2 linked regions of the Homo sapiens genome follow. The main gene of each other region encodes a partner of the protein of the gene in region 2 in a complex. Each region holds a gene or a part of one and is shown on either strand. Other genes may lie near its edges. The genes, in order: S100A10 and HLTF. A codon is read from its position in the direction of its gene.

The links.
Region 1: the proteins of HLTF (region 2) and S100A10 are in contact, whole or in part, in a crystal structure (PDB 4HRE), measured with the Homo sapiens proteins. Residues at the interface, in NP_001305864.1 of Homo sapiens: Thr32, Phe33, Phe34, Pro35, Phe37, Phe39; in NP_002957.1 of Homo sapiens: Phe42 (codon at 4,093), Asp58, Leu59, Asp60, Gln61, Gln70, Ser74, Leu75, Ala77, Gly78, Leu79, Ile81, Ala82, Tyr86.

Annotation. Positions count from the first base shown.
Region 1 is NC_000001.11:151,982,015-151,991,956, forward strand, and holds the end of S100A10 (protein S100-A10), read right to left. Parts: intron 4,238-9,942; 5' UTR 4,217-4,237; coding exon 4,085-4,216; intron 1,311-4,084; coding exon 1,149-1,310; 3' UTR 901-1,148; downstream 1-900. UniProt on the Homo sapiens protein: Because S100A10 induces the dimerization of ANXA2/p36, it may function as a regulator of protein phosphorylation in that the ANXA2 monomer is the preferred target (in vitro) of tyrosine-specific kinase.
Region 2 is NC_000003.12:149,081,937-149,092,369, reverse strand, and holds the start of HLTF (helicase-like transcription factor), read left to right. Parts: upstream 1-5,836; 5' UTR 5,837-6,033; coding exon 6,034-6,053; intron 6,054-7,480; coding exon 7,481-7,688; intron 7,689-10,433. UniProt on the Homo sapiens protein: Has both helicase and E3 ubiquitin ligase activities. Possesses intrinsic ATP-dependent nucleosome-remodeling activity; This activity may be required for transcriptional activation or repression of specific target promoters.

The sequences.
Region 1 (9,942 bases), on a different chromosome or scaffold from region 2:
AATTAGCTGGGCATGGTGGCAGGCGCCTGTAGTTCCAGCTACTCGGGAAGCTGAGGCAGGAGAATGGTGTGAACCTGGGAAGGTGGAGTTTGCAGTGAGCCGAGATTGCACCACTGCACTCCAGCCTGGGTGACAGAGCAAGCCTCCGTCTCAAAAAAAAAAAAAAAAAGTAAATATTCCATCTTCTTTGACCTATTTACTTGGAACAATGCTATGTGCCAATTCATGGAATTCATATATCACCTCTCCATAAAAGCATAGAGTACTGTGTTATTAATAAGCATATAGCATTGATGCACATATACCCTGAAGCTTCTAACAGGCACAAAAAAGGGCTAGGAGGAACATTTTGCATTGATTATCAAGACATCAGTACTGACACTTCATTTTCAACAAAAGTGTACTGCCCCGTGTATAAGTCATGCCTACCATATTTCCTGACATCTGGGAGTTGACTTAATAGATGCTAATGTGATGTTATTACCAAGGTGTCAAGCTACACCCTCTCCTGATTGGTTCTCCTAGTTCTGCCTTAGGTTTGCTGACACTTTGCTATGAAAATTGGATTCAGACATTGCAGGCATGCAAAGTGCTGGCTAGAAAAGCACTGATTTAACTGGGCAAAACTGTGCCCAGTAATTATAAACTTACCATCTATTCCTGTAGAGCCTTCTCCTAATCCTTCAAGTTTGAGTCCTTCATATAGACACAGCTACAAGGGCAGAACAATTAGAGAAGTCAGACTCCAAGCCTGAATGAAGAGTGTTTTCTCATTTTGCCAGTTCTGTGAGAAAAGCTCTGCTGTGTAAGAAAAGCTCTGCTGTGTGCTGGCTGCCCAAGGGCAAGCTGCCTCTTGGGGAACAAGAATTTCTGAGGGAACAACAAACATTCTGTCTCAAATTTGGAACTAAAAAAGAACTTTATTTATTGAGGGCAAGGGGATGCAAACAATACAAAAATCAAAAGCTTATCTGGTATTTAACTTTTCTTTCTCTGCTTGTCAAATGAGAGTTAGATTTTATTTTTACATTTGCTAAGTGTCCTGATCTGCTCATGAAATCCTTCTATGGGGGAAGCTGTGGGGCAGATTCCTTAAGCGACCCTTTGGGACAACTCTTATCAGGGAGGAGCGAACTGCTCATTTCTGCCTACTTCTTTCCCTTCTGCTTCATGTGTACTACAAAATAGTCATTGCATGCAATGGTGAGGCCCGCAATTAGGGAAAAGAAGCTCTGGAAGCCCACTTTGCCATCTCTACACTGGTCCAGGTCCTTCATTATTTTGTCCACAGCCAGAGGGTCTTTTTGATTCTGAAAAAAAAAAGAACAAAGGCAAGAAATAGAAGTCAAAGGTTGCAATGAGGAGCTTATTTGATTTGTACTGCTGAGAACTGTGTATATATCTCCCAATTACTTGAGCTCTTGTTTTAGGTCATAAGCAACCTTTGGAGTTCATCTAAATGTATTTTTTTTTTTTTTTGCCTTGTGGGAGCATTTCAGTAATTTCATATTTAGATTCTGCCTAAGAACCACCCTAAGCTCCTCATTTTATGGTTTAAACTTACATTCTCTTATTAAAATTTTATTCCTAATGGCATGGTCAAATCCCTTACAAAGGAAACTCCTTATGAAAAGATATTTATGATTTAGGGAATAAGTTTTGGATCACTGTCCTATGGATTTTAAAGAGGTGTTAATGATGCCATGGGTTGGTTTTAGGTTTGGAGAAGGCAGCTCTCATTCTTGGCACAGCTGAGGACAAGCTAGTGTGGCTTCATATCATATTAGCCACGTGATGCTGAGTGAACCACACAGCTTAGTGGGCCTTTGTGTATCAACGATGAATTGAGGAGGTTGGACTATAATGTTTCTAGAATCCTTTCATTCTTTGAGTTGGTAAGTCTATGCCATCCTATACTCTTCACTGGATGTTGTACACTGGACCAGTTTCAAAAGGAGTATGTGGGATGGAGTCTTAAACTCCCCATGACTCTCAGTGCCTGGTAAGAATGTATGGAACAGAGATGGGCAGGCAAGACCCCCTTTGCTTTTATCTTGCTTACATGGTGATTGGCTTCAGCACTCCTTTTTGTAGTGATGCTGGTCAGAAGCGGTAAGGTGTGGTTTTTCCTGTAGGGTCCATGCCATCAACCAGAGAGAGAAATATGGCCTATTTGAGGTTGTTAAAGGGCTCAGGTAAACTATTTATGAATTCTGATGACTATATTCATGAGTGAGGAAAATGATACGCAGTGTTTCAAGTGTGCTAGATGTTTCTAAATTGCACTCAGAAATTCCTAAAAGTATAGCAGCAGCATTTCCCACATGAGCACTGCAAACTCCTACTCTAGCTAAACGTGCTCTATGCAGCTCTTGGTGGGTTTCAGCTAATTCTGGCTTCACCCTCAGCTTCCTGGCTGTGGTCAGAATGAGTGAAATCTGGATGACATAAGAGGTCTACTTTAGAAACAAAATGCTCTGTTAATGCAGTGAGTCTAGATGTTTCCAGAATTATGACTCTGTGCCTGGAATAAATTACCCTGCCATGGTTAGTGCTCCACACTACATATACCCTTTATGTGTCTGATGCCACAAAGCCTTTAGGAAGAAAGGGTCTGTGTCTTACATGATACTCACTCTGGCTCTTAACAACACTCTTAACAAGTGTTTAGTGTACTGAGAATGCCTTTGTCTATAGGACAGGCAGGCTTACAATGAGCACATTTTGTCCTTGCATCTTAATGCTTGTCTTGAATGATCATAGAAAGTGAAAGTGACCTTGCAGATAATTATGTCCAGCCCTCTCTAATTTTACAGGGGAGGAAACTGAAGACTAGAGAGCTGAAGCAACCTGCCCATTGTTAGTTAAGGCAGAGCCAGATCTTCTAACTCCTGGTCTGGGGCTATATCACAGGACTCTACAAAAGCAGAGGACCTGCATATTCTAACTCATTCTGGGATAGCATTAGGTAATAACTGCAGCTCTGAGAGAGCAGTTAGGCTATTTATATCTGTTTATTTAACTGATATTGATGACATACGAATTATAGTATACTAAAAAGCCTCATGTTTATTGATTGCAGGAGTCAGGGGCTGGACTAATGTGCCGTTTACCAGTCAGATGACAAGAGGCAGGACCCAACGTTTTACCGTATCTCCTCTCACCCTTTACAGGTTAATGCATTATTCAACACCAAGCACAGAAACAATCTTTTCAGGTGACTACAATTGTGGTAGGGAAAGAAGGGCTTGCATTTCAGTCTACTATTTTGTCATGCAATGTTGCACCTTCAGTTGAATTCAACAGCCACCTCTCGAGAACCTGGAATATAAAAGGACAACTGTGCCTTGTGGCCCCATGTCCTGAGTGATGTATCTGAGCTGATGGCAGAGTCCTCTTATAGGTCTTCATGCATCTCTCAGTCTGTCAAAGGTGAGACATAAATTCAAACTGCTCCTGTGCTGTCAGAGCATTATTATGTGAAAAGCAGTTATTTCTGGAGTGATATGTGGCTTTTATTCAGTAGATGACTGACACTGCTCCTTTGTAGTATTAGAAAAAGAAAAAACAATCCCTTTATCTGAAGAGATTTAAGAAGGGAGATTCGAGTTGCTCAAAATGGAATGTGACCAGGATGTGGCATCTCCACCACCAGGTTTTTGGACCTGAAGGTAGCCATTTTCTGGTTGACTACTCTTTTGTGAAAAGCTTTCTTTCTCCCAACTCTGTCCCCAACATCGTCACAACAGACACAGATAACCCGATGGAATTTTCCAACAAACAGCTCATATTGTGGTTATTTGTATGCAGTCTTATTTCACCTGCAGACTGTAAGCTCCTTGAAGGTTGGGGCTGTGTCTTCATTACTTTGTTTCCTCAACAGTATCTTACAAATAGCAGGTACTCAATACTATTTAATAAATGAATGAATGAGGTCATTCATTCATTCCTTCAGGTGACTACATTCATTTATTCACTAGTGGTGACCTCCACAGGGAAGGGATGGAAACAAGAAGGAAAAGGAACCAAGGCCTAGAAGCATTGACTTTTATGTCTGGTTCTTTGTAAGCTTTTCAACACTTACTTCCAAAAATCCAGGGAACTCCTTTTCCATGAGTACTCTCAGGTCCTCCTTTGTTAAGTAGCCTTTATCCCCAGCGAATTTGTGAAATGTAAACATCATGGTTTCCATGGCGTGTTCCATTTGAGATGGCATTTTGGTGTGGTCCGTTGAAGCCTATTAAAGGATGTAAAGTAACAGGGTCTACATTAACTTTTTTTGGCAGACTTTATGCATGAATTTATTTTTTTTAAATTGAAAGATAAAATTGTATGTATTTAATGTGTACAACATGATGTTTTCAGGTATATATACATTGTGGGATGACTGAATCTAGCTAATTAACATATGCATTACCTCCCATAGTTAGCACTTCTGTGGTGAGAACACTTAGCCACTCTTAACTATTTGTCAAGAATACAATACATTGTAATTAACTATAGTCACGTTGTTGTACAGTAGATCTCTTAAACTTATTCCTCCTAACTGAAATTTTCAATCTTTTGACCAATAGCTCCTCAACATCACTCAAATGCAATCACCCCAGCCCATTCTATTCTTTAGTTCTATGAAATTCAGTGTTTAAGATTCCACATGAGTGAGATCATCTGGTAATTGTCTTTCTGTGCTTGGCTTATTTCACTAAGCGTAACGTCCTCCAGGTTCATCTTTGTAGATTTACATTAACTTTTAAGCCATATGTATTGCCAGCCTTTTTAGGATAATTGGAAAGATGGAGATTAGATCATCCATCTGATCTTCTCCAGCTTTAAAATTCAGTGAATGAATCTAAGAACCAGTCCACCCCAGTTTGGGTCCCTTGTTGGTAGAAATAGACACCTCAGATACTGGTGCTGTAAATAAAGGGGTTTAGCTAACTCCAGCTAATTTGCATGAATAATCTAATGAAGAATAGAAACTAATAATTTAGAAAAGCAACATCAGTGTTCCTCTTTTTTTTTTTTTTTTTTTTTTTTTTGAGACGGAGCTTTGCTCTTGTTGCCCAGGCTGGAGTGCAGTGTTGTGATCTTGGCTCACTGCAACCTCCGCCTCCCAGGTAGCTGGGATTACAGGCGTCCGCCACCATGTCCGGCTAATTTTTTGTATTTTTAGTAGAGGCGGAGTTTTGCCATGTTGAGCAGGCTGGTCTCAAACTCCTGACTTCAGGTGATCCGCCCACCTCGGCCTCCCAAAGTGCTGGGATTACAGGCCACTGCGCCCGGCCCAGTGTTCCTCTTTTTAACTGACAAAGCACCTACTGAAAGAACAGATAGTTCATAATTTCTCTTGGCACTAGTAAATGGGATTCTTAGATATGGCTGATACTAACAATCCACACAGTCAAGTCTGGTAAATACGAAAACTTCACCCTTCTAAGCTTAAAGTGGTAACTTGGTTCAGTGTGATTCTAGGGTTTAGAAATCTGCTTACAAATGAATTTATCTGCTGGGTATATATGTATTCTTTTTTTTTTTTTTTTTTTGAGACGGAGTCTTGCTCTGTTGCCCAGGCTGGAGTGCAGTGGCGCCATCTCGGCTCGCTGCAAGCTCCGCTTCCTGGATTCACGGCATTCTCCTGCCTCAGCCTCCCGAGTAGCTGGGACTACAGGTGCCCGCCACCGCGCCCGACTAATTTTTTTGTATTTTTAGTAGAGATGGGGTTTCACCGTGGTCTCGATCTCCTGACCTCGTGATCCGCCCACCTCGGCCTCCCAAAGTGCTGGGATTACAGGCGTGAGCCACTATGCCCGGCCTATATGTATTCTTTACTAAAGCTCTGAACTTGTTATTTACTGCAATAAAGACAGTTGCATCTCTGGCAGTAAAATACAGTTGCTCTACCCAAACAGAAAACTACTCAAAGTCCATTGTCTAGTTCACTTGAGAAGCAACAAGTAATACTATAACCTAACTCATTTGAGGGCCTCCTATGTTTTTAGTGACATTAGACAGATGAGCTGCTCTCACAGTCTGGGGTACAGTGGGAAAGCAAGAGCTTTCATCATGAAGCGTTTATAAGAAAGGAAAGGAAACATGTCAGATCATTACATTTGGGTATAATGAACTAGGGGTATATGTCTCACAAGACCCAGTACGTGGTACTTAATAGAACCTCAGTGAATTTTGGCTTAATTGGAAGGAATCATTTGGCGAGAACAGATAAGCTTTGGCTAATATCACCTAAAATCACTACTGGATAGGAAACAGGTGAACGTGAATGGAGACTGTAATATAGCACTAAAAAATAAAAATAAATAATCACAAGAATAGGCTTTGAGCTTAGATTGAAGGGCTGGCAAATTCCTCTGCTGAAGAGCTCTAATGGGAACCTGAGACATGCTTTGGTCTGGTTCCTATCTCTGAGAGATGCCTGTTCAACACTGATTCTCAAATGCTATCTTTTACAGAGGAGAAGGTGGAGTGGGTAAACATGAGGATTGAGCAATTAACACTTAAGAATTGTAAATTCTACCCCTTAATCTCCAGAAAAGTATGGGAACCAGCAGGCCAAAGAATGCTATAAATCAGAATCTGGCATGAGTCATCTGAAAGGCAGTTAGTTATCTTGGAGAGAGCTGCAAATTAATGCTTCAAGGTCTGCTGTGAGATGAATTCCAGGGGAACCACACCCTTTTCCTTCTCTTCTGACACAGCTCAGATCTGGCTCATCCCCCATCCCTCATATGGGTTTCAGATGGCAGTGGGCTTACAGAGAGTCTGCCTTGCCTGGACTGGTACTCCAAGTCCAGCAATTTAAGAGAACTGAACTGGGCGAGTCACCTCTGGGAGAAGGACGTGGGATCCCACCCCAGTTCTTAAATAACTCAGGAAAGGAGTCAGACACCACAGAGGTTTAAAAATACCTGTGCTCAAGTTCAGAGCAGCAGAGCACTTCAGGATCAATTCCCAAAGATCCCAGAAATTGGAACTGGGTGGGGTACCTAGTTTACTTTTTTCAGATGACAGGACAGAAGGAAAGTGCAGAATTAAGAAAGGGAATGCAGCAGGGTAAGGACCTCTAAATTTTAAAAAGGCTAATTTTAGGAGGTTCTAAGAAATACAAGTTGTCAGCTGAGGAAATCCTGGCCACCCTTGAGTATCTTCTTCAGGAGAGCAAGGTGAGTCTACCTCACACTGTGTGAGTGCTTAGGTCTGAAGTCACTCAGTCGCATGCCTCTCTTGCCCACAGCCATTACGAAGTGACGGAGCTTCCTTCTCTGAAGTTACATCCTTCTCCCACTTGGTCTTCCCCTCCCCTCCTCCCCCAGCGGTTTTATTCAGTGGATGGATTGTGAATATTGCAGCCAGCTGACTCCCTGTGTGTCCAGTAGGCCTTCTGCAATAAGGATGCAGAGGAGGGAGTAGCCAGGAGGTGAAAATAGCATTGAAAATCAGTGGAGAAGCCCTTGTCTCCTCAGCAACCAGTACCCCAAAGGGCACTGACCAGGGCCACAGCAAGGAACTCTGTTTTGGGGAAGGAGTTGCACACTGGCTTTAAAATAAGACAAAGGAAAGGGGGAAATGTTGTGATTAAAACTCTGTTCTCTTGGCTAGAGGATGAATCATGTAACTCTTGTCTGAGTGCAGCCAATGGTTGCCCAACTGAGTCAGCCCTGCCTGGCCCTCCGTTCTTGGGTGGGGCTTGCCTGGGCAGGGCTGTCTGCAGCACTGCTAGCTGCCAAAACTGAAGTTCTTCAGGGACTTCAATCTGGCATTTCCACCCTCACGTAGCCACTCTGCAAGCTCTATTCCTGGACAGATGTGGGCTTCCTGCATCCTGGTTAGACACATTTTGACAGGAGGGCCTTGGGGCTGGGGCTGAGGGGCTGCAGTGTCCTCTCTATCCCCAATAACGTACTCTTGCACCTGAAACATTCAATTTCATTTAATTGTTTACTTGTCTGCCTGAGATTTAAGCTTCTCTTGATTAAGAACTACAAATTATTCTGCTTTTATTCATGGAGCACTATATAACTGTTATGTGCATAAATGAACCACACAATCCCTTGGGCAGTAGCTGAGGTGCAGGTGTGATTACCCAGGACTAGGCTGAAAGCCTTGTAGCTCAGAGCTCAGGAGGACGATGTGAGAGCTGGGAAGGGCCAGGAAAGGGGCCCCAAAAGTGTTCAACTATGAACGGAACAGTAGATAGAGTACACAGGAGTGCACATTCCATACGCAAAAGGAAAAATATGTGTCCTGCTAAACAGGTCTAGTCAGAATGACATGACTGTGCTCCTTCTCTTCTAACACTTGCTATTTTCTCGTGTTTCATTCATCCCATCTTCTACTTTTTGCTTTTCTAGTGCTGCTATCTCACTGCTGAGCTCCACAGGATAATAACAGCCTTGCTGTCCACTCACCTTTTATTGAAGTATTCTAATCTGATGCCTATACATGCCCTCTACATGTTTGTCTGAGCAACAGGTCTTAAGAAGGGAGGCGGAGACATCTTTCTCTGCATAGTTTTCTCTATGGAAAACAATTCTGGACTCCACAAATTTAGTTACCTTAGGAGGAATTCAATTTTCCATTTTTGGTTCTCCCTCCCTGAGCACCTACTTTGAATGTCCCAGACATGGTGTTAGGCATGAGGGTGTTCACACACACATACACACATGCACACACACACAAAGCTCTCCATGGTGCTTGCCTTTGAGGAGTTCACCAGCTAATGGAATACTATTAAAGCATTTGGCCTGAATTCTAGTTATTTGTGTTTCTGTTTCTTTCCTCACTAGGTTGCAGGTTTTTTGAGCAGGGTCCCAATAGCCAGTGCCCCAGCCCTCATAGAGCCTGCTCGATGAATTGTTAAGAAATTGATAATGATGTATTTTGGTTGTCCTGCGAGTAGCAGACAAGCAGGAGTCCTCCTCAGAAAAGTGTCTGCTCCTGAAAAATCTCAAATGTTTGCTTTGGACCTATGCCCAGATCCCGGCTGCAGTTTCAAAGAGGACACTTCTGCAGAGTGAGTCGGACTTGCTTTGCTCCTCTGTGTCTTGTCCATACCCTAGTTTTCTTACAGCCCACCCAGAAAATAAACGGCAGGGTGTCAGTAAAAACAAACATCTGTTATTTAAAATATGTTTGAGGTTTCCTTCCTTTTGCTTTAGAAATTTTGGAGTTTTTAAAATTGAACCCAGAAGGCATTCTTAAATTTGATCTCTGAAGGGAATTCAGAAAAAATGAGTTGAAGCAATGGATCTGGATCCAGGCTGTCTCTCTCACCTCTCACCAACTAAAACTTGCCCACTAAAGAACTGGGCAGCAAAGGAACGTTTCAGATGCAATTCAATAGGAAGAAAGAACTTGGAAGAAACCTCCTTCAATCTAACCAACTACATCAATTTTTCCTTAAAGAATGCTTAGGCATCAGCCTAATCAGCCAACATAGCTACTGTCAAAACTGCTTTTAGTTAAATCCTTTGGTAGGATGGGTGGTATTTATTTAGTAAAGGGATAGAAAGTGCTGAAAATTGTTTAAAAGAAGTACATTCTTTCTTTTTGCTTTTGATGTGGATTCCTAAATTTGTTGAGTCCCCAGAAAAATGAGAAACTTAAGATGTTAAAATTTTAGTCCAGCTTTCTCAGCACTTTGAGTGCTAATTTATACATTATAATCCTGAAAGAATTCCATTGTTTCTCTCAACTTTACGCTTTAAAAGACTGGACTGTGTCCAAGGGTATACCAAGTGGGTTGTGCTCTACAAAAGTCACATTTTTTGAACTGTCAGTAGAAAGCAGGGAGGCACACAGTCTCAGCTCCACCCTGACCTCACTGGAGTGGCTGCTTAGGAGGCTGGCCAGCACACGGGAGGAAAGGGGCCTATATGATGTGTCGGAGAAAAGCTAGGAAGAGCATCACCCAGAAAGCAGGGTAAG
Region 2 (10,433 bases):
TTTGGTATGGCCATGACAGAAACCCTAAATCATTCCAGGGCCTAGAGTGGTACTTCCCTGAAGCTGGGGAAAGGACCCTGGGCAGAAAGCAAAGGAGGGGGCAGATCCCTGGCTGGCCTGATGCCTTGCAACCCTGGGCTTGAGCCACATAAGAGCATTTAGTGAGTCAAGGCCTAAAGGAGGAGGGAACAATTATCTCCTGGGAAAGGGCTATATAATCTGGAACACCACAGATTTCTCAGACGCGGAGTTGAGATTAGAGTGTCTCCTACCGCTTGATGAAACAATTCAGTCTACTTCAAGGACGTGCACCTGGAAAAATGACTGGCTTCTGGAAACAGTGTTATTCTGCTATTTAGGAACAACCCTGCTGATTGAGCCTCAATAAGGAAAATAGGCCTCAATCAACCATATTTCTTAAGTGCTAGAGGACTCGTTAGACAATAACTCTATTACAACAATAAGAGCACTTACTGAGTGCTTACTCCAGGGCAGCACTTCATATTCATTATATTATTTAATTAAGAAGATTTTTACTTGGCATTAATTTAATATCACTTTGGCCCTGTCAGCTGTGGTTTTACTCAGGATTTTGTCCAAAATCTAGAGAAACCTGATTATAAGAAAATTTAATAAGTCACAAAATATTATATTTTCTTTTCCACTGCATTGTCTTGGTTATTTAAAAAAATGGTTCAGAAATAGTATTGTACCAATGTTCATATCCTCATTTTGGTCATTGTACTATAGTTATGTACGGTATTAAAATAAGTGGCATAAAGGATATGAGGCAACAATTTGTACTAAATTTGTAATTTTCTGTAAGTCTACAATTAGATAAAAATAAAGCTGAATAATAGTTCATCATTTCTTTAATAAATTACTCATTTTATTTTATTATGGCAAAAAGAAATACATGTTTAATGTAGCAAATATTTTATATACATATAAGTAAAAAGAAGAAAATGAAAATTCCCTAATTTAACCAGCTAGAGGTATTTACTATAAATATCTAGGTATATCTTCATCAAGATGTGTGCATATGGACATATAGCATGTATGAATTTCAATCACTGACTATATTTGCAAATGTAAAACTTTATATTTCTTTATTGAACTTAATTTTTCTTAAACCTTCATTCTGCCTAATGGCAGGTAACCTAATTTAGTCACTTCTGAATAGTTCAGTCATTTTAAGATTTAAAGTCATTTAAATTCAGCTTTCAGATTTAGTTCCCTTCGTCTTACCCACCAGGGAGGTTATATTTGGACTCCATTCATCTAATGCAGTCACCCATTGCAGATGTAACTCATCTCACCTCACCGTTGGGGACCAGCATCCTGCTTTTGTTTGCTAGAACCATAATCCTGATGATGCCCTCCAGCCTTCACAGGGCTAGAGGCTCACAAGGCTACCCCGGGTCCCCTTAACAGAGCCACCTCAGTCACCTTTACTCCTTTATTGCCTTGGCACATTTCTAGTCTCTGAGGTTCTCTCTGAGATCTGCAGAATACTGAGGCCACTCTCTGGGAAATGTGGCATAGCTTCCTTTTCTTGTGTAATCTACAGAAACTTTGCTAGACTTTCTAGCATTCTCCCTTTGTGCAGATTGGCCCAGTGTGATGGTATTCTAGGTCTTCTCTCTAAGACCCACTTAAGGGATTTACTCTGCAAACCCTCCTGCCTGACATTCTTGAAAATTCTCCTCAATTGAACTTTTATCTCCTTTGGAGTGAAAGAAGCGAACAAACAAGCAAGCTCTTACATCATCCTACTTTCTTCAGTCTATGAGTTATGATATAAGCTTAAAAGTTTCTGTATTGAAGCCAGATTTCTAGATATTCAGATTCTTCTCTTAAAGCCCCTCCCTGCTGCCTGGTCCCTGCCCCCACACCAATGGCTTTAAAATTCTATTTTGCAAAGTGTAAAAAACATTTTTTTTTGAGAGGGAGTCTCGCTGTGTCACCCAGGCTGGAGTGCAGTGGAACGATCTCGGCTCGCTGCCATCTCCGCCTCTTGGGTTCAAGTGCTTCTCCTGCCTCAGCCTCCCAAGTAGCTGGGACTACAGGTATGGCACCATCACCCCCTGCTAATTTCTGTATTTGTAGTAGAGACAGGGTTTCACAATGTTGGCCAGGCTGGTCTTGAACTCCTGGCCTCAAGTGATCTGCCCACCTCGGCCTCCCAAAATACCAGGGTTACAGGCGTAAGCCACCACACCCAGCCTAGAAAAGGCCTAGAAAAAGTGGCTCACGCCTGTAATCCCAGCACTTTGGGAGGCCAAGGCGGGCAGATTGCTTGAGCTCAGGAGTTCGAGACCAGCCTGGCCAATGTGGCAAAACCCCCTGTCTACAAGAAATACAAAAATTAGCCTGGGGGTGGTGGTGCCATGCCTGTAATCGCAGCTACTTGGGGGCTGAGGCTGGAGAATCGCTTGAGCCCAGGAGGTCGAATCACGCCACTGCACTCCAGCCTGGGCTACTGGAGTGAGACCCTGTCTCAAGAAAAAAAAAAATTTTTTTTTTGAGACAATTGTGAACATTTGATTATGAACTAGTTATTAGAAGATACTAAGAAGTGATTTGTTATTAATTTTGCCAGGTCCATGGTTTTTAGAGAAATTAGTGAAGGCCATTATAGGCAGGGTGGGTTGGGAAGTGACCCGAGAAATGAAGCTACTGTGGGAGGAAGAGCCACATATGCCATTCTTGGATTTCAGGCTCACTGAATCAAACGGGAGTGACATGACATGATTAATTTGCATAAAGGTTCTGTGTGTGTGTGTGTGTGTGTGTGTGCACGGGCATGTGTGTGTGTGGCTAGGGGTGCAGATGAGAAGTGTGTTTGTGACTGGGAAGTGGCTGGCTGGAGAAATTTTGGATTCCTTTCCTTTCCATACCATTCCTACCTAAATTTATCAGTGAACATTTTGGTTCTCTTGGCTTCATCACCTTCCCTTTCCAAGCCACCACCATCTCTTATCTGAACACAATAATTTTCTATCAGTTGCTTCTATCCTTGTTTCCTGTAATTCTCCACAGAGCTGCCAGCATTTTTAAAAGCCTAAATCAAGTCGTTATCCTCCTGCTCGAAACATTCAATGGCTTTCCATTGCAGTTAAAACACAAATTTTACTGGAGACTCTTAAGTTCCTATGTAACCTGGCCCTTATCTTCCCCACCGTCCTTTTAGTGCCACTTTCCTTCTTACTCACCAGCCAAACCCCACAAGCCACCCTACAGTTCATTTTCCAGTTACAAGTGTTCATTTTTCATATCTACTTGTGATGCTGTTATCAGAATAAATCAAGAAAAAACCAAAAAAGTTAATTTTTCAGAAAACATTATTTAGTATAATAGTTTTGAAATTGTAATTGCTGTAACATTTTAATCAAACTAGTACAAATTGTACTTGATCTTTAAATATAAAACAAAGAATGATTAAGGGAAAGAATGTTTTACTCCTGGTTCTGGGATGTGAAATATTGATAACATAGAGAAAACATACTGTGGGAGGAAGAGCCACATATGCCATTCTTGGATTTCAGGCTCACTGAATCAAACAGGGGAGTGACATGACATGATTAATTTGCATAAAGGTTCTGTGTGTGTGTGTGTGTGTGTGTGTGTGTGCGCGCGCGCGGGCATGTGTGTGTGTGTGGCTGGGGGTGCAGATGAGAAGTGTGTTTGTGACTGGGAAGTGGCTGGATGGAGAAATTTTGGATTCCTTTCCTTTCCATACCATTCCTTTAAATAGCAAATTTTAGTTCATTCAAAGCACATTCTTTAACCATGGGACAGTCATTATTCATAGATCTTAAGTCTTTTTATTTTTTTGAGATGGAGTCTCGCTCTGTTGCTCAGGCTGGAGTGCAGTGGCTTGATCTCGGCTCACTGCAACCCATGTCTCCCTGGTTCAAGCGATTCTCCTGCCTCAGCCTCCCAAGTAGCTAGGACTACAGGTGCGTGCCACCACGTCTGCTTAATTTTTGTATTTTCTTAGTAGAGTCAGGCTTTCACCATGTTGGCCAGGCTGGTCTCGAACTCCTGACCTCAGGTGATCCACCCAACTCGGCCTCCCAAAGTGCTGGGATTATAGGTGTGAGCCATTGCGCCTGGCCAGTCTTAAGTCTGAAAGAGCTATGTTCTCATATTTGGAATTTTTTCTTTGTCTAGTGAGCATGACTTTCTTACTCTTACAAAACATCAATTTGAGCAATTTCTGGCATATTTTCCAAGAATTTATTTAAAATCTGGCATACTAAAAGCTGAACTGTATTGCCATTTGCCTCAACACACTTCAAGAAGAACATACAACAATTAAAATAATTTGAAATGCCATTGTCTTTATCTTCCTCATCAACTTTGGTCAAATGAAATAATACATTGTTTCAAATTCTATTGCTCATCCATGGTTCATGATTAGAGATCACTACAGTTTATTTACGATAATGAACAAATGTGTCTTGAAAAGCTGACTACCGGCCTGGCACGGTGGCTCATGCCTGTAATCCCAGCACTCTGGGAGGCCGAGGCGGGCGGATCACCTGAGGTCAGGAGTTCAAGACCAGCCTGGCCAATATGGTGAAACCCCGTCTCTACTAAAAATACAAAAATTAGCTGGGCGTGGTGGCGGGCTCCTGCAATCCCGGCTACTCCGGAGGCTGAGGCAGGAGAATCGCTTGAATCCGGGAGGCGGAGGTTGCAGTGAGCCAAGATCACCCCCATTGCACTCCAGCCTGGGGGACAGAGCAAGACTCCATCTCAATAAAAAAGAAAAAAAAACAAAAAAAAGAAAAAAGAAAAGCTGACCACCTAATATTATTGTGCTGACAGGCGTGTAACATGGACCTCTCTGTGACGCGCAAGTATTATCTGGCAGTTACATGGTGCCGCCTGTGCAGCTGGGCGCCACCACCAGCTTCCTGCCCTGTGCGATTAAAAGGCCAGCTTCGGGGACAGCAGCCTCCTCAACGCAAAGCGACCAGCCCTGCCAGGCGTCGGCTGCAGCTGGTCCAAGGTTGACGGTCCCAGGGCCGCATTCTCCTTCCGGTCACCTCAGACTCTGGAAAGAGAGCCATGGAGGGCCTCAGAGCGCCCCTCTGCAGTTCCTTGAGGAAAACAAGGGCCTCCCCCTCTTGGCTGGAGCAGCCAAGTGCCCACGGGGAAAATGGTCCCGTCCACCATTTCAGGCAAACGCCCCCATAGCTGTAATAAACATGTGATGGGTTTCCTGCACCAAGAAAGGAAAATTTTCCTTAAAAATAACAAAAAGAGGTGGGGAGGGGACTCTAAGTTCCATTTAAGATTTTCCAAACTCGTTGTGTCTCATGCATACGCTGAGGCTTAACATGAAAATTTGGAGCGAAAGTCCCCACGGTTCACCACAGGGAATGAAGTAAAGTATCTCGCCGGTAGCTCTAGGTCTCGTAAACCGTGGAGCTCCTTTAGTATAAGGCCCTATTATGTGCCACATTAGATGAGAAGAAAATAAGAGGAAGGATACGGTAGAGCCTTTAGAATGGGGTTCAGTCTTAGGACTCGTAGGATAAAGGAAGGTCGTTTCCCTCCGTTTGAGGCAGGGAATCAAACAAAACACCGGCACCGCAGGCACCGCAGTCGCACTCCTGGGGCCTCGTGGCTTTCCCGCGCGCCCGCCTTGGGGGCGGGGAAGAACCCGGATGGAACCACCCTTGCAGCCCGGACCCCCCGCCGTCTTTGAATGGCAGCGGGGCGGAGTTGCCCTCCCTTCTGTGCTCTGACTGGTTTGGCTCCGCACTCTCCTCTTCGTGATTGGGCTTTCCTAGTGCCAGTCACAGAGCGACGCTGGTCTCCCAGATTGTTGCAGAAGGAGACGGCGTCGACGTCTGACTGGACTCGCGGCGACTTACCTTTCAGTCGTGCGCTCCTGATCCGGCGCTCGGAATTTGTCCCCGGCTTCAGGGCTGCGGGGCCTGGAAGGAGGCGTATCGAGGCGGCTCGAAAACGATCCAGGGGAGCCGAGGCGCTCCTCTTGTCATCCCACTCAGCGCCATGTCCTGGATGTTCAAGAGGTGAAGGGGGCGGAGGGGGTGGGGCGCTCGGTCTAACGGCCTGGAGGCGTCCCCAAATGAACCTGACCTTCCCCGCGTTCCTCTGCGTTCCCTGGGCGATTTGTGCAGCTGTATTCGTTCTGTTGGTCGCATATGTGGCCGCCGGAGAAATAAATGCATTGTCTTCGCTGGCGAGTAGGGGCTCCTAGGGCGAGTCCCGTGTTAGGGACTTGGGAAATCTCTGTCACCGACTGTGGGGGGCCTGGGGCTTAAAGCATCTCGGCCAGTGCTTTATTTAACAAAACATCCATTAGATACCCACTGTGCGCCAGGCATTGTGCTCGGTGGAGGGCCGAGTAAGACAGTCCTTGTCCCCAAGTGGCTCACAGCTTATCTGTATGCACAGACGTGCAGATAAGTATTTGCAGAGGCGCTAGTAGAGATATGCGCCACTTGCAAGGAAAACGCATCGCAAATAAGCGACTGTTCTTAGGAGAATGGAAACTTTTTGCAATGCTCCAGTAGACTCCCCTTCACTTTTCATTGTCCAAATTGGTATTTATGGTCATTCCCGAAACAGTTACACCTAATGGGTTTGGGGTTATGCTTAAACCGGCGACGGAAGGCGGGTACGGGTGGCTTGGGGCCAATTTCCCACGGTGGCGTGGTTTGGATACCAGAATAGGTGTTCTGCTCGCAGGGAGTTACAGTGATGGATGCTGGATGTATTTTCTGGAAAATTATAAACAACTTCTGGTACATTAATAGTTGTATTTTTATAAGTCTTTTATATAGCTCAATCCCTATTGAAATTTTGGCATATGATTTCATTTTTTAAATTATTTTTTTGACATGGAGTCTCGCTCTGTCGTCCAGGCTGGAGTGCAGTGGCACAATCTCGGCTCGCTGCAACCTACGCCTCCCGGGTTCAAGTGATTCTCCTGCCTCAGCCTCCCGAGTAGCTGGGATTACATATGGGCGCCACCACGCCTGGCTAATTTTTGTATTTGTAGTAGACAGGGTTTCACAATGTTGGCCAGGTTGGTCTCAAATTCCTGACCTCAGGTGATCCACCTGCCTCTGCCTCCCAAAGTGCTGGGATTCCAGGCGTGAGCCACCGCATCCGGCCCATAATTGTAGTTACAGACATCATATACATATCAATTTAGATGATTTTCACTGGGAAAGAGGTTAGTGAACTCTGACTAGGCTTTTCATTTTGAATACCTAGGGGGCAGGTAGAAGAGCCAATATTGAAAACAGGTAGAGTTCCTAGAAGCCTTCTCCACTCACTGCAATTCCTGCTTTAACGAGAGTAACTATTAATCTTTACCGTGATTCCCATGTAAGATTTCATTTGCTGAAGTAAAGCATGAGAAAACTACTCATATGGTCTTTGGAAATACTTAAATATTATATTGTTTTTCTTTGCCTTTAAAAAAAAATAGGGATCCAGTTTGGAAGTACTTGCAGACTGTCCAGTATGGAGTTCATGGAAATTTTCCACGCCTCTCATATCCAACTTTCTTTCCACGTTTTGAATTCCAAGATGTTATCCCTCCAGATGACTTTCTAACTAGTGATGAAGAAGTAGATTCCGTTTTATTTGGAAGTTTGAGAGGTCATGTGGTTGGACTACGCTATTACACGGGAGTAGTGAGTATAATAGTAGATAATTAAATTTTGATTATATTTCTGGCGTTAACCTAGAAAATAAGAGAATTCGCAGGTGATGTGTGCGGTTAATCTTTATTTTACTTTAAGTTAGTTAAATATTTGTACGCAAAAAATAACAAATACCTTAAGTGACCCTCCCACCTCAGCCTCCCAGAGTGTTGGGATTACAGGAATGAGCCAATATGCTTGGCCTCAGTGCGTTATGTTTGGTTATTATGGGTAGCACCCCACCCCCACACCCCAGCGCCTTGTTCATGTCATCGATTTGTTGCAAAAAGGAGATCGTTTTGTGGAATCTTCTGGATTTTATTCTTTCATTTCTCCGTATGTTTCTTATGTTTAAGCTTCTCAATAGGGTGTCTGAAGCATGTTCGACAGGAGATTCCTTAGGAGTTTCATGTTCTGGATTTGTTTTTCTCCTGTATTTCCTTTACATTGGAACGTTTCAAATTGTTTTTTGATTGTCTGAAATGTGTTGTCTAGGAGATTCCTTAGGAAGAGACAATATTTCCTAAGTTTTTATATTTTCATACTTGTGGCATTTTATGAATGACAGTTTCATAAAATGAAAGTTATGAAGGACTTAATGACAGTTGGGCTGAATTTAAAATCTTTGTAATATATCTTTGTAATAAAATCTTTGTAATAAAATCTCCATATCCTAATGTTGCATAGAATTCTCAGGCCAGTGTGATTTTCTTTCACTTAAGTGAATTGGATTTTTTTTTTTTTCTTTTTTTTTGAGACCAAGTTTCGTTTTGTTGCCCAGGCTGGAGTGCAGTGGCCTGATCTGGCCTCACTGCAATCTCTGCCTCCCAGACTCAAGCAATTCTCCCAATTCAGCCTCCTGAGTAGCTGGGACTGCTGGCGTTCACCACCATACCCAGCTAATTTTTGTATTTTTTTTTTTTGTATTTTTTTTTAGGTTTTGGCATGTTGTCCAGGCTGATCTGGAACTCCTGGGCTCAAGTGATCCGTCCGCCTTGGCCTCTCCAAGTGCTGGGATGCTGCACCCGGCCTCTAATTTTTTCTAATAGATTCTTGAACTCTATCAGTTCTTATTTCACATCTATATATTCTCTGGCTCTCATATGCATTTCTGAGCTTTTCTGTTTCAGATTTGTGCTAATTTTTCAAAACTTACATTGCTTTCGATAATTATTTTATACCACCATGAAATACTAGATTATGGTAGTTATTGATCTTAGAACAATCAGTATTTTTGATCTGAGAATAATCTCTATGACTTCGGTAAACTCTAGTGTGTGTTGATAAAAAGTAATCATCAGTTTTCTTATTTTGCCAAATATATATACTTTAAATTTTATTTTTTTCCAGGAACACTATGTTGAGATATCATTTATTTTATAATTAATGCATGTTCTTTTATTTGTTTTTGTTTTTTTTTTGAAACGGAGTCTTGCTTGCATTGCCCAGGCTGGAGTGCAATGGTGCAATCTTGGCTCACTGCAACCTCCGCCTCCCAGGTTCAAGCGGTTCTCCTGCAACAGCCTCCTAAGTAGCTGGGATTACAGGCATGCGCCATCATGCCCAGCTAATTTTTTGTATTTAGGAGAGATGAGGTTTTGCCATGTTGGTCAGGCTGGTCTTGAACCCCTGACCTCAGGTGATCCACTCACCTCGGCCTTCCAAAGTGCTGGGATTACAGGCATGAGCCACCGCGCCCAGCCACGTTCATTATTTTTAAATGGCTAAAAAGGCATTAAATCTTCTGAAGTCTATCATCCAGAACCATAACTTATCTTCTACACTTGTTTCTGTGAGCATGTGCATGTAAATTGGAATCATATTATGTATTAATAAAAATGAGATCATATTATGCCTAATGTGATTAGGAATATCATCTATATTGGACTTATAATTTCCTTGTTGATGGACATTTTTGAGTTAATCACTATTATAAAAATAATAAAAATTGAGATACTATCTTTGCATACTTGTTATTTTAATTTTTTTTCTACTTTATTGAGATGTGGTTTACGTATGATAAAATGTACATATTTTAAATGTATGATCCTAGTGTTTTGACAAAGATGTATACCTGATAACTACTACCCCAATCAAGATACAGATTGTATCCGTCTCCCTCAAAGTATCTTGTATCCTATTGCATTCATTTTTCCCTGTTCCTGCCCTAGGCAGCCACGAGTCTCATTTCTTTTCTTTTTTTTTGTTTTTTTTGAGACGGAGTCTCGCTCTGTTTCTCAGGCTGGAGCGCAGTGGCGGGATCTCGGCTCATTGCAAGCTCCGCCTCCCAAGTTCATGCCATTCTCCTGCCTCAGCCTCCCAAGTAGCTGGGACTACAGGCGCCTGCCACCATGCCCGGCTAATTTTTTTGTATTTTTGGTAGAGACGGGGTTTCACCGTGTTAGCCAGGATGGTCTGTATCTCCTGACCTCGTGATCCGCCCGCCTCGGCCTCCCAAAGTGCTGGGATTACAGGTGTGAGCCACTGCGCCCGGCCACACAAGTCTTCTATCACTATAAATAAGTTTTGCCTATTCTAGAACTTCATATACATTGAATTCTACAGTATGTACTATTTTAAGTCTGGCGTTTTTCACTCAGCATAATTTAGGTACTTCTTTGGTCTATTTTGGTTAGTTACATTTTTGAAGAAAAGCATCCATTTTATTTAGATATTCAAACTTATTCCCATAGAATTGTGCATAGTAATCATTTATCCTTATAAAATTGTAACTGT